Linked DNA regions of Homo sapiens: region 2 is linked to region 1. Evidence: fine-mapped expression QTL. Tissue or cell type: gastroesophageal junction. Region 1 holds a variant in brackets; the other region holds the start of a gene. All regions are shown on one strand. Distances are from middle to middle.

Region 1 (4,000 bases):
ATGGTTCACCACCTTTTTATTCTGTCCCTTCATTCATCACTAATTTTGCATGAGAAATTTAGCTTATAATCACTGACGGTGTTGGAGTTGCCACCATGCTAGGCTGTCATACCTCAAAGCCGACATTTTCCAGATTGGCCGGAACACGGTATGGATTACTTGTCCTACTGCTTTTGACAGTTTTACATATTCCTCCAGTGAAAGAGTTATCAAGGACTTCTCCTCTGGGCTCTCCTGCCAGAAAATGAAACCTAGAAACAAAGTAATTTTCAGGAATTCAACAGATGTAGAACAATCTTTAAAATTTACCTTAGTTATATGAAAGGAATTCCTCTTCTAAACCTTTTTGCCTCAAGACAAATGACTTGAAGGAATCCCCCACACCTCCGCTTTTTTTTCCTAGTCCATGGTGAGGCATGCAAGGAAGCTGGAAAGCCCAAACTCAGCTTCTCTGGCTCTATTAGGTTCTCCTATTCCACTTACTTAATTGTTCTTGGCTTTCAACATACAACAAAATCTGGATTTATAATTTTTTATGACTTACAAAGCCAGTGCAAAGTTTGGAAGCAGATTATGAAATAAGTTATTATATAATAAATGCTATCCCAGGTCTACTTCTTTCTGAGTGGAATTCTAATAGAGAGCTCATAATAAAATAGTAACAGCAATATTTTAATGGAATTGTAATAATATTATAGTTTTACTAATAACTGACTATAATATTTAAAATATATTTTATTTAACAAATGCTTATATACTATTTACTATAAGCCAAGCAATAGTAAGTGCTTTACAAATATTAACTTGGTTAAGTACTTTACTAATAATAACTTATATTTATTACAACCATATGATGTAGATATAATTATTATACCTGTTTTACAAATGAGGACATTGAGGCACATAGAGATTAATTAGCTTAGCATAAATCAACTATTTAAGAGGTTATTTTGTTATAGATAAAAAAACTTCTCCAAGATGCTAATGCTTTTCCAAATTCTAAGAGATATTAATATGTATTCTGTGAAAAAAGTAGTTTTTTTGTCAAACAGTTTGGTAATGCTGTATTACATAGATTATAAAAATCGTTTTCTACAGGTCATGTCACAGCCTTAAAAATATAAATTGTCAGTCTCCAAGTACATTTGACCAAATAACCTTGTCTTTCATAGAACATGTAGTGTAGTTCTACAGAATATCACTGGAAAATTCCATGTAGCAGAAGGAATAGCACCAATGCCCTTCCCTTCTCATGACCCTTCAGTACACCCATCCCTTCTGATAGTTGTGGGGGCTCAAGGGAACTCTAAACATCCTCAAGAATGTCATTGACCACTTACATGTCTGTTTCCCTTGTACTTCTATGGCATTAACTCACAAGACAAAATGTACCTGAAAGGCACCACCTTTACCAGAGCTGAAATATTAAGTTTTGTAACTATCACAAAGATCTGAAAAAAAGACAAATAGACTCATTCATTTGTGAGGGAATCAAGAAGCAGTTCACTATGGGAGGCTTTTGCGATCTATTAGACATTTGGATTTAAAGCAGAAAATTCGACCAATTACTCAGGCGCTTCTAACCAAGGGGCACAATATTTTTCTATCAAAGAGGAGCAAGGATAGTTTGAAAGTTGTAAAGTGATGTTAGAATACTGAAAAGAAAGTAAGGCTAATATAAATACTTGTAAATTCTCTACCAATAAAATTGTGTTAATGTAAAAGTACACAGACACACACATACACACACACACACACACACACACACAGCTTTTAAGTTTCTGAAATGGTTTCTTCACTTGAAAATGGAGCTAATTGCTTTTTTATAGTAGTTGTGGAAATTAATAGTGACTAGCACAGGCCTGGCCTGCCCTATGAAAGGAAACAATACATACTATCTCTCCCATTTTTTCCACCAGGGAAAGTATATTTTAATTTTATTAAAAGGTTGCATACTAAGTTCAAAAGTAATTGCTTGCAGAAACAAAATCAACAAACAAAAATCAAATGTATTTCCCTACAAATAGCAATGAACAATCCAAAAATAAAATTACAGAAACAATTCCATTTATAATAGCCTCTCAAAGAATAAAATCCTCAGGTATTTATTTAACAAAAGAAGTCTAAGACTCATATACTGAAAAGTATAAACAATGTTGAAAGATATTAAGTGAAATCTCAATGAATAGAAAGACATTCCATATTAGTGGATTGGCAGAATTTGTGTTGTT[G/A]AGATAGCAGTACTTCCCAAATTGATTTATAGATTCAAGACAATCATTATCAAAATCTCAGCTGCCTTTTTTTGGTAAAAATTCACAAGACAATTCTAAAATTCAAAAGACCCAGAACAGCCAAGAGAATCGTGAGAAAGAAGGACAAAGTTCAAGGAATTACCTTCCTGATACACAATTTACTTCAAAATTAGGGTCATCAAGACAGTGTAGTAGTACTGGCATGAGGATAGACAGACATATAGATCAATGGAACAGAAATGCATCTAGAAATAAACCCATACATCTATGGTCAATTGATTTTCAACAAGGGTGCCAAGACAGTTCAATGGGGAAAATAGTCCTAAATGAATGGTGCTGTAATGACCTAATGGTTATATTGCAAATGAATGAAATTGGGCCCCTTTCTCACATAATGCAAAAAAATTAATCAAAATAGATAATAGAACCTAAATTTAAGAGCTGAAACTATAGAACTTTTAGAAGACAATATAGGACTAAATATTTGTGAACTCCAGTAAGACAAAGCCTTCTTAGATATGACATTAAAAGCACATTCAACAAAAGAAGAAATAAATATATTGAACTCCACCAGAATTAAAAACTTTAGTGCTTTAAAGGACACCAACAAAAAAGTGAAAATACAACTCATATAATGGGAGAAAATATTTCCAAGTCACATATCTAATGAGGAACTTACACCCAGAATATACAAAAAATGCTTGGAACTAAATAAAAAAACCAAATTACTCAATTAAACCATGAGCAAATAATTTGAGTATCTAAATATATAGTTCTTTGAAAAAATATGAAAATGACTAATAAGCATGTGAAAAAATGCTCAAAGTTATTAGTCATTAGGAAATACAAATCAAACCTGCGATGAGATACCAGTTCATAGCCATTAGAATAGCTTTAACCAAAAGATGAACAGAAACAGTTTTGATGAAGGTGTGGAGAAGTTGATTTTCAATCATATGTAACTGGGGGAAATGAAAAATGGTGCAGCTGTTTTGGAAAATAGTTGGGAGTTCTTCAAAAATTAAATGTATAATTACCATAAGACCCTGCAATTCCATTCCTAAGTATATATGAAAGAGAATTGAAAATATATATCAATGCAAAAACTTGTACATGAATGTTCATAGCAGCATTACTCATACTAGTCAAAGTAGGAACAAACCAAATGTTCATTAGCTGATGAATGAATCAACACAATGTGATAGAATGATACAATGGGTTGTTATTCTCTCATACAATGGAATGAAGTATTAACATATGCTTTATATGGGTGATTTTTAATATTACATTTTTAAAAATTGTCACATAATTGTACATATTTATGGGGTACGTAGTGATGTTTAGATACATACAATGTATAGTAATAAAATCAGGGTAATTAGCATATTCATCACCTCAAACATGTTGGGAATATTCAAAATTTTCTCTTCTCGGTATTTGAAAATATGTACTAAATTATTGTTAACTATAGTCACCTGCAATGCTATAGAACACTAGAACTTATTCCTCTTATCTAGCTGTAATTTTGTAACCTTTAACCAATCTCTTCCTATCCTCCCCTTCCCCTACTCTTTCCAGTCTCTTGTAACCCTTATTCTAATCTACTTGTATGAGATCAACTTTTTAAGCTTCTGCATGTGAGTGAGAACATGTAGTATTTATGTTTTTGTTTCTGGCTTATTTCACTTAATATCCTCCAGGATCATCCATGTTTCTCCAGTGACAAGGTTTCATTCTATTTTATGGCT
Region 2 (4,000 bases), 26 kb after region 1:
GGGACAATAGTAGCCAGATAGAATTTAAGTCGTGATCAGACATATAATGTGAGTCCCAAACATTTGGGAGCTGAGGCTCCCAAATAATGTGAAGCTTTCCTTTCAACCACTAGATAGACTAGAGAAGCCACTCCCCTATACCCTTCACCCTTGCCCCCCACTGCCAAAATTGGAATTTTCTCATACAGGGACCTTTTCAGCAAGAAAAACTAAATAGATACTTTGTTGTTGTTTTTTTTTCTTATTAGATGTTGGACAAGACAGATATCTTCCAGAATATTTCCTCAATTGTAGAGAAAACAAATTCTTAAAGCTTCTGGTGAAATTTTCATGTAAATAATTTGGAGAAGTTAAATTGCAAGAGATTACTAATTCTCAGTTCTCAGCAGACACTGTCTTTTAACTTCCAAAAGCTTGAAAGGTATGGGTGAGTTTTATTCCAATTATCATCAAAAACTGCAAAAACAGAACCCTTATAAAATATTCTGATCGCTCTTTAAGCTATAACTGTTCTGAGGCAATATGGAGCCTGATATAAATTAAGATGGTAACATTAAAACTTATTTGATGAGGTACTAATGAAAGAGCTAATTGGTAGCTTTTCTTTTTTAATATTCTATTATTAGGAATACAAATTGTTTTATGTTAAAACAATTTTATTTTTATTTATTTATTTTTTTGAGACAGAGTTTCATTCTTTCACCCAGGCTGGACTGCAGTGGCAGGATCTCAGCTCACTATAAACTCAGCCTCCTGGGTTCAAGCAATTCTCTGCCTCAGCCTCCCGAGTAGCTGGGATTACAGGCCCCTGCCACCACACCCAGCTAATTTTTGTATTTTTAGTGAACTCGGGGTTTCACCATTTTGGTCAGGCTCGTCTTGAACTCCTGACCTTGTGATTCACCTGCCTCGGCCTCCCAAAGTGCTGGGATTACAAGCGTGAGCCACCAAGCCCAGCAACAATTTTTAATCAAATAAAAATAATTACTTCTCTGAATTTTTTTGTTATGATGGCCTAGCATATTGTATTATATGGTTTCTTATTTATTAATTTCCACATCTCTAGGCATTCTGGAGGTATCTAAAATTACACACAGGCATTTTACCCATTACTGTACAATTTTCATACAAACATAGAATAAAAGAATGTTCGGTCAATAGAGGAAGATAGGAAAAAAGTCTTCCACTTCAGTGCCATCGTAGAAAAGCAGAAATTCTTCAGTTTTCTCATAGTTGCCATCCCCTCTTGAGTTTTCCAAAAATCAGTGATCCCATTGAACCATTGATGATAGCTTTATGAGCATTTAGAGAATTTCAATTAAAATGAAGCCCATCTTATTCTAACCTGTCACTTTCTAATGTATTTTACTCACATGAACCATTTGTCTGCAAGGCAGTTCAGCATATCTTACCCAACAGATTTCTGAGGATGCTCTAGTTTATCCCCAGCTATAGGTTCTTCCTTTACATCTCCATGTAAACTTACTGAATTTCTTATTTCTTATTATTTTTTTCTGTGCATGCCCAGAGGCTCAAGAAATGAGCCTTTCTATCTTTCTACCTTTACTATCGCCAAGGTAAGCTGGGTAGTCCAGGTGCATGACTGACCTTGGCTAAAGAGTATGTTTGCTTTACTTTTAACTAATTTAACTCATAGAGAAACTTGATCTCAAATGTCCTCTGGAATGACATTTGTTTAAAAAACATGACCTCTGGTTCTTTTCAGATTTAAACAAAGCAATTATAAAAAAGAAAGACAAAGAAATGGTTATAGTCTGAGTTACATATTTTTATGCATGAAATTGTAATTTTGTTGGAAACATGATTAACAATTTTGAAATATTAAGATTGAAAATGAAATCATCATATTACTCACCTTTAAGCAGAGTTTGTGGTGTCCTCGGACCTAAGCTGCAAATTATTGGGGAAAAAATAGGTATGCAGAATGAAGAGGGTATATATGTTAATCCAAACAAAGCTTCTTTTCTTATTGCTAGCTAACACAAGGCAATGCTGTCATATCCCAGAAGCCTAGCAACACCTAGAGGGTTGTCAAAATAAATGTTCTCTGGAACTTGAACTTTGCAAATGATTACACCAATCAGTAGTAACCCTGAAACTCTGGGTGTTGGATGTTACACAGAGTCCTGAATTTTCAGTGAGTTTTCAATTCAAGGGCTATTGTAGTAGCTATTGCTACTGCATAGAAATCTCTCTTTCCATTTTAAAGAATCCTTTAGATTAATTGCTTAAAATTGCTGCCCCCCTTAGGAATGTATAGATTCTTAGTTTTTGATTATAGAATAGTTATTGGTAACTATTTAAGAAATGTTTTTGGAGACAATGTGATTGTGTATGTAGAAAATTCAAAAGAATCTACAAACATTAGAATTAATAAATGAATTTAGTATGATTTATCAACACAAGTTTATTATAGTAAAAAGTGTTTCTATATGCCAGCAAAACCAAACAGAAAATTTAATTTGGAAAGAATTAAAATAGCAATGATCAAATGGGCTCTTTATATGTAATGATGATTACGCTTCTCTGAAATGGTTGCAATTTAACTTTAGATTGAAGTAAAATGGATTTCATCCTAAGGTGAAGCAGAACAAAATAGTGCAATAGAAAAGAAAAAAAACTATAGGGACTGAGAATGTGGATACATATTCTAGTCTTGTTTCTGCACTAAGCAGCTACCAGCTATGTGAGCTTCAATAAATCACTATACCTCATTGGAACACTGGTCCCTCATTTGTAAAACAAGTGTTTTTCAAACTTTTTTCAAAGCAGTAGAAAACAACTAAAACAAATATTCCTTAGACAGCTTAGATTTTTATCACATGGTGGGAAATGATGATCTCAGCAAGTCTAAAGATTACTTGAAACACAGCTGGGAACCCACCACTCAAAGGTCACATAGTTTAATATACATGGTAGTAACTTTCCCAAGGCCAGAGTAAGTCAGAACTGGAATACAGATGATCTGATTTCCAGTCTTTTTTCTCTCTCTTATACTACATTGAGATTTTAAAGATTGAAATTTGGGCCTAAAGAGAAAGTAGAGTGGTGTGCTGCAGACCAGTGTTGAAGCTAGTTTGGGGCTGGGATAGCAGCTTCACCCTTGATTACCTGAGAAGATAAACAGGAAAAGAAATATTTGGTGATTGGACAAGAATATATGTCATTTAATTTGCATATTTCTTTCTTTAATTGGTCTTTGAGGTCCTAAAATAAAATTCATTTGTCCTGAGTTCAAGGTGTTTGGAGCTAAAGGCAAATACTGGAAGTCATAATACAGAGAGATGCAAAGTTAGGTGCCAGTAGGATGAGCTTAAAGAGGACTTTATTTGTAATGTGGGCTATGAAGAGGACAGAGAAGTAAGATTGTATGCTGTGGCACTGGAAAAACACAGGTGGAGAGAGTTAAGGATGGTAAGGGGAAATCCTTGAGATGGAATGCGAATGTCTGTGATCCAAACACTAGAATTGACCCAGCACCAACTAAGAATCTAGAATCTTTTCAACAATGTATTTGGGTTCTCCATCTTGGGTTCTTTTGGAAGGTTAAATGACATATCTCACTCATGAGTCCTTTTTCTAGAGCAGGGATTGGTAAACTAGCCTGATGCCCGTTTTTGTAAATAACGTTTTATAGGAATAAAGTCACACAATTGGCCATTGTTTATGGTTGCTTTTGTGCTACAATGGTAGAGTTAAGAAGCTGGCAACAGAGGCTCTCCAGCCTGAAAAGCCTAAAATATTTACCGTCTGGCCCTTATAGGAAAAGTTGCAACCCAGAGAGAAATATTTCTGGTCTGATACATACAACAAAGTGTCCAGTGGCTTTGGGAAGTAGAAGTAGGCTAATTGGGACTGATGAGTAGGTGATTGTTTCAGAGCTAGGAATTGAATACTTGTGTGCAGTTGTGCTCAGGTCTGACTCTGTGCATGCAAAGAATATAGGTGTTCTCTAAACAATATTTAGATGTGTGCTGCT

Alleles and levels. Positions count from the first base shown, and alleles are read on the strand shown. Sizes are in standard deviations (SD) of each study's normalised expression.
For the expression in gastroesophageal junction of the gene that starts at base 2,033 in region 2, G is the high allele of the variant in region 1 and A is the other (small effect, 0.31 SD a copy in GTEx).

Evidence for each region. PIP is the estimated chance that this variant, and not a neighbour inherited with it, causes the effect.
Region 2: it holds the start of C6, and the variant in region 1 is the best candidate, but not a certain one, in a credible set for the expression of C6 in gastroesophageal junction (GTEx, PIP 0.56).

Annotation. Positions count from the first base shown.
Region 1 is chr5:41,185,958-41,189,957 of GRCh38, forward strand. C6 (complement C6) reads right to left here. Exons shown (of 18, transcript NM_000065.5): 6 at 113-251. Among named protein-coding and RNA genes, the nearest start is that of C6, 26 kb to the right of the region's middle. The variant G/A (reference allele first, on the strand shown) is at 2,232.
Region 2 is chr5:41,211,500-41,215,499 of GRCh38, forward strand. It overlaps C6 (complement C6), which reads right to left and starts at 2,033. Exons shown (of 18, transcript NM_000065.5): 1 at 1,877-2,033.